Homo sapiens: one gene and its partner. The protein of the gene in region 1 purifies or fractionates together with the protein of each later gene. This does not show direct contact. Each region holds a gene or a part of one and is shown in the gene's direction. Other genes may lie near its edges.

Region 1 (3,660 bases):
CAAAATTCTGTTTTCTTCAATCACTTGCAATGTATGACTAACCTGTTTCTAAATAAAAGGCATTAATGTGAGAAAAAATAAGTTAGTAAGGAGGCTTGTAGCCCTGACCTCCCCTATTTTTGTTCCCATCGTAGCTGGGCCTGTTCCGATGCGAAGGGTCAGTGAGCTGCCTGGAACCTTGGCTGGGCGCTAACTCCACCCTGCAGCTTGCCGTGGGAGACGTGCAGGGCAATGTGTACTTTCTGAATTGGGAATGAAGATGTGCCACTCGGGAATAATGATACCCCTTGTGCTAGAGATGCAAAGCCTGAAGACACTGGTAGCTTTTAATAATTATAAAATTAATAATTTCTTGATAATTATAAAAATGAAGTGTCAAAAAATCTCAAGTGTAGGCCTGCCTGTGTTCTCATGTGGATTTAGAACAGGAGGATATTCTATGTGTATGTATATGTACATTCTAATGTGTGTCTCTTCTTATTCAACATTAATCCTTACTAGAACCACAAGAAAGTGAATGAAATCTTTAGTAGGTACTCTTTTGAAACTAGGTTTTAGAATTCTTGCATCACTCGCGGGCCCTAGGACCCTAGGATGCCATTCTTGCCAGGAGGAGGAATGAGAGTGATGTTGGCCAACATTCAATTTGAACAGAGCATGGAAGACCTTTCAGTTCATCGGGAAAGAATGAGGGAGGGAGAATAAGTCAGTCATGCATCAGGGCATTTAGAAAGAGCTATGTTTCTGTCACAGAGACAGCCCTTTTCTCAGAACTACCCAGAGGAGGCCGGGCATGGTGGCTCACGCTTGTAATCCCAGCACTTTGGGAGGCCGAGGTGGGCAGATCACGAGGTCAGGAGATCAAGACCATCCTGGCTAACATAGTGAAACCCTGTCTCTACTAAAAAATACAAAAAGTTAGCCAGGTGTGGCGGCGGGCACCTGTAGTCCCAGCTACTTGGGAGGCTGAGGCAGGAGAATGGCGTGAACCCAGGAGGCGGAGCTTGCAGTGAGCCGAGACACCACTGCACTCCAGCCTGGGCAACAGAGCGAGACTCTGTCTAAAAAAAAAAAAAAAGAACTACCCAGATGAGAGGTGAGGAGCCAAGCCATTGAAAGCGGAACAAACCTTCTGGTTTTCCCAACTTCTGACACGACTTTCAACTTTAGTCAATATGGTAATTGGCATTCTCAGAAGAGATCACGAAAGTGTCTTACTCTCTCTCAAATTGAAATTCACAAAGATTAAAACTAATTGAGAGGTGGCACAATCATAGCCATGAACTCTGATTTTCTTAAGTAAAAAACCTTTTTTTTTTTTTTTTGTTTTTGAGATAGAGTCTGGCTCTGTCACCTAGGCTGGAGTGCAATGGTGCAATCTCAGCTCAGTGCAACCTCTGCTTCCTGGGTTCAAGCGATTCTCCTGCCTTAGCCTCCCGAGTAGCTGGGATTACAGGTGCCCACCACCACGCCCAGCTAATTTTTGTATTTCAGTAGAGACGAAGTTTCACCATGTTGGCCAGGTGGGTCTCAAACTCCTGACCTCAGGTTATCTGCACACCTCAGCCTCTTAAAGTTCTGGGATTACAGGCGTGAGCCATTGTGCCCGGCCCATAAAAGAACTTTATTATATTTCTAAAATTCAATCATATGGAAGAATCTATTGAGCAGGTTAGCCTTTGCTTAACTTTCCTCCTCTGTTACTCCAGCCTTAGCTGGGGTGTTTTGTAGAATTTTCAGAGCATGGGAGACAGACAACTAGAGCTTCCTCCTGCCCTTGGCCCATGCTTTTAGGAGAGCAAAAGGCAAAAGATTGAAACCACTGACTTTAGTTTCCTCAGGCCCTTTCTTTCTGAGGGTTAAAGAAGAAGGAAATGTCTTCTGTGGCCAAGAATTCAAGGACTTGTAGGAGATAAGTGAAGGCTATTACAGGGATTTTGTCCTGGTTTGGTAGGTTTCTCTTGGAGAAATACCACTACACCCTGGTCTAGAAATGAGTTTTGAAGACTTGGGGAGTTAAAGGGCACTGAGTTTTACTCTCACTGTACCCTGATTCCAGGTTTTACATGGAGAAATAACCTGAGGGACTTTATTTCTATCCAATGCCCTGGTTTCCATCCTGACCAGAGGATGATGACATCCGCTGATAGGCCATGCTTCTGTCTTCTCTTATGTGCCTCATGCCAAGCCTCGAAATATACCTTCTGGACCATCATTTCCACATCTACCTTGTGACTAGAAGTCCTAGTTATGGTATTTTGAAATTTATGATCCATAATCCTTGCCAGAAATCCTGCAGCGAACTATGGCATGGCATCATCCTAGTCATTGATTTCAATCTTTTGCCTTTTGCTCCCCTAAAATCTTGGGCCAATTGCAGGAGGAAGCTCTATTTGTCTCTCTTCCATGCTCTGAAAATTATATAAAAGCATCCCAGCTAAGGCTGGAGTGAAGGGGTTGGGGAAAGTTAAGCAAAGGCTAACTTGACCAATAGGCTCAATAGATTCAGTCTTGTTGGCCAGGCCCACTTGAAGGGTTTTTTGTTTCATCTTGGAGAAGGACAGTGAGGTCATGGTATAATTGTTATGAGTAAAGTCAAGAACAGCTTCTAGGTAAAAGTAATTATGTACCCAAAAGGAGTTGAAGGGAAAATCAATTTAGGTTTACATTAAACATCCTTCAAGTTCTTATCTTTAAATGGAGTTTCAGTGTCTCCCAAAGGCTGGATGAGTTTTACAGTTATAACCACTGGATTGTGAGACCATAGGACATTTGAACAATCTTTTCTTCTACCCATCTAGAAAAGCATCTTTTTTATATACCAAATTTTTACACATATATCCACATCTGTTTTTGAAATCTAGAGCAGAGGTACTCAAAGTTTGGTTCATGGACTAGTGCCAGTTCACAAATTGTTAATGTTTTATAATGAGATAAGTACGGAAGTTGAGAGTAACCATTTAGAAACTGTGTAGGAATTTAAAAAGTAATATCTGACAAATTTAATAATAAAAATGGAGGCTTGTATTTTGTGTGCTTTTTAATTTCATTTTCTTAATAATCCATTTTGATTATATTTTATAAAAGTATTATTCCGTGACAGATAAGAAATTAAAACAGGCCAGGCACGGTGGCTCACGCCTATAATCCCAGCACTTTGAAAGGCCAAGGCGGGTGGATCACCTGGGGTCTGGAGTTCGAGGCGAGCCTGGCCAATATGGTGAAACCCCGTCTCTACTAAAAATACAAAAAATTAGCTGGGCATGGTGGCAGGCACCTGTAATCCCAGCTACTTGGGGGGCTGAGGCAGGAGAATCGCTTGAACTCAGGGGGCAGAGGTTGCAGTGAGCCGAGATCGCATCATTGCACTCCAGGCTGGGCAACAAGAATGAAACTTGGTCAAAAAAAAAAAAAAAAGAAAAAAAAGAAAGCAAGAAAGAGAGAGGGAGGGCGGGAGGGAGGCAGGAAGGAAGAAAGAAAGACAAAGGAACAATTAGTCCTTCATCTCAGAAGGTTTGAGAAGCACTACTCTAGAGAGACTGGGTAACAGCAGCAAAAAGCATGGACTTGGAATAAGACTGCCTGAGTTCAAATCTTCATGCCTCCTTTCCCCCATTTGTACAACAGCCATAATAATGGTGCTTACTTCATGGGAGTGTT
Region 2 (2,526 bases), on another chromosome or scaffold:
TGTCCTCATTTCCCCACCAGGGTCTCTAGCTCCGAGGAGCTCCCGTAGAGGGCCTGGGCTCAGGGCAGGGCGGCTGAGTTTCCCCACCCATGTGGGGACCCTTGGGTAGTCGCTTGATTGGGTAGCCCTGAGGAGGCCGAGATGCGATGGGCCACGGGCCGTTTCCAAACACAGAGTCAGGCACGTGGAAGGCCCAGGAATCCCCTTCCCTCGAGGCAGGAGTGGGAGAACGGAGAGCTGGGCCCCGATTTCACGGCAGCCAGGCTGCAGTGGGCGAGGCTGTGGTGGTCCACGTGGCGCTGGGGGCGGGGTCTGATTCAAATCCGCTGGGGCTCGGCCTTCCTGGCCCGTGCTGGCCGCGCCTCCACACGGGCTTGGGGTGGACGCCCCGACCTCTAGCAGGTGGCTATTTCTCCCTTTGGAAGAGAGCCCCTCACCCATGCTAGGTGTTTCCCTCCTGGGTCAGGAGCGTGGCCGTGTGGCAACCCCGGGACCTTAGGCTTATTTATTTGTTTAAAAACATTCTGGGCCTGGCTTCCGTTGTTGCTAAATGGGGAAAAGACATCCCACCTCAGCAGAGTTACTGAGAGGCTGAAACCGGGGTGCTGGCTTGACTGGTGTGATCTCAGGTCATTCCAGAAGTGGCTCAGGAAGTCAGTGAGACCAGGTACATGGGGGGCTCAGGCAGTGGGTGAGATGAGGTACACGGGGGGCTCAGGCAGTGGGTGAGGCCAGGTACATGGGGGGCTCAGGCACTGGGTGAGATGAGGTACACGGGGGGCTCAGGCAGAGGGTCAGACCAGGTACACGGGGGCTCTGATCACACGCACATATGAGCACATGTGCACATGTGCTGTTTCATGGTAGCCAGGTCTGTGCACACCTGCCCCAAAGTCCCAGGAAGCTGAGAGGCCAAAGATGGAGGCTGACAGGGCTGGCGCGGTGGCTCACACCTGTAGTCCCAGCACTTTGGGAGGCCGAGGCGAGAGGATCCCTTGAGCCCAGGAGTTTAAGACCAGCCTGAGCAACATAGTAGAACCCCATCTCTATGAAAAATAAAAACAAAAATTAGCTGAGCATGGTGGTGTGCGCCTGTAGTTCCAATACTTGGGAGGCTGAAGTGGGAGGATCACTTGAGCCCAGGAGGTGGAAGCTGCAGTGAGCTGAGATTGCACCACTGTACTGCAGCCTGGGTGACAGAGTGAGAGCCCATCTCAACAACAACAAAGAAGACTGACAAATGCAGTTTCTTGGAAAGAAACATTTAGTAGGAACTTAACCTACACACAGAAGCCAAGTCGGTGTCTCGGTGTCAGTGAGATGAGATGATGGGTCCTCACACCATCACCCCAGACCCAGGGTTTATGCACCACAGGGGCGGGTGGCTCAGAAGGGATGCGCAGGACGTTGATATACGATGACATCAAGGTTGTCTGACGAAGGGCAGGATTCATGATAAGTACCTGCTGGTACACAAGGAACAATGGATAAACTGGAAACCTTAGAGGCCTTCCCGGAACAGGGGCTAATCAGAAGCCAGCATGGGGGGCTGGCATCCAGGATGGAGCTGCTTCAGCCTCCACATGCGTGTTCATACAGATGGTGCACAGAAACGCAGTGTACCTGTGCACACACAGACACGCAGCTACTCGCACACACAAGCACACACACAGACATGCATGCATGCATCCGTGTGTGTGCACCTGTGCCCATGAGGAAACCCATGCATGTGCATTCATGCACGCACACAGGCACCGGTGGGCCCATGCCCACACCCACGAGCACCGTCTGATTAGGAGGCCTTTCCTCTGACGCTGTCCGCCATCCTCTCAGGTTTCACGCATGTGTGCTGCAGCTCCCATTTCATCAGCAAGTTTGGAAGAACCCCACATTTTTCCTGCGCGTCATCTCTGACACGGCCTCCCTCTGCTACTCCATCCTGAAAGCCAAGAACGCAGGTATGTGCAGGTGCCTGGCCTCAGTGGCAGCAGTGCCTGCCTGCTGGTGTTAGTGTGTCAGGAGACTGAGTGAATCTGGGCTTAGGAAGTTCTTACCCCTTTTCGCATCAGGAAGTGGTTTAACCCAACCACTGTCAGGCTCGTCTGCCCGCCCTCTCGTGGGGTGAGCAGAGCACCTGATGGAAGGGACAGGAGCTGTCTGGGAGCTGCCATCCTTCCCACCTTGCTCTGCCTGGGGAAGCGCTGGGGGGCCTGGTCTCTCCTGTTTGCCCCATGGTGGGATTTGGGGGGCCTGGCCTCTCCTGTTTGCCCTGTGGTGGGATTGGGCTGTCTCCCGTCCATGGCACTTAGGGCCCTTGTGCAAACCCAGGCCAAGGGCTTAGGAGGAGGCCAGGCCCAGGCTACCCCACCCCTCTCAGGAGCAGAGGCCGCGTATCACCACGACAGAGCCCCGCGCCGTCCTCTGCTTCCCAGTCACCGTCCTCTGCCCCTGGACACTTTGTCCAGCATCAGGGAGGTTTCTGATCCGTCTGAAATTCAAGCCATGTCGAACCTGCGGTCCTGAGCT

What was found.
Region 2: the proteins of TEP1 (region 1) and TERT purify together in Homo sapiens (affinity purification with western blotting, with the first as the bait; 2 studies listed by BioGRID). This does not show direct contact.

What each region holds. Positions count from the first base shown.
Region 1 is NC_000014.9:20,365,034-20,368,693, reverse strand, and holds the end of TEP1 (telomerase protein component 1), read left to right. Parts: intron 1-134; coding exon 135-257; 3' UTR 258-3,027; downstream 3,028-3,660. UniProt on the Homo sapiens protein: Component of the telomerase ribonucleoprotein complex that is essential for the replication of chromosome termini. Also a component of the ribonucleoprotein vaults particle, a multi-subunit structure involved in nucleo-cytoplasmic transport.
Region 2 is NC_000005.10:1,254,719-1,257,244, reverse strand, and holds part of TERT (telomerase reverse transcriptase), read left to right. Parts: intron 1-1,833; coding exon 1,834-1,958; intron 1,959-2,526. UniProt on the Homo sapiens protein: Telomerase is a ribonucleoprotein enzyme essential for the replication of chromosome termini in most eukaryotes. Active in progenitor and cancer cells. Inactive, or very low activity, in normal somatic cells.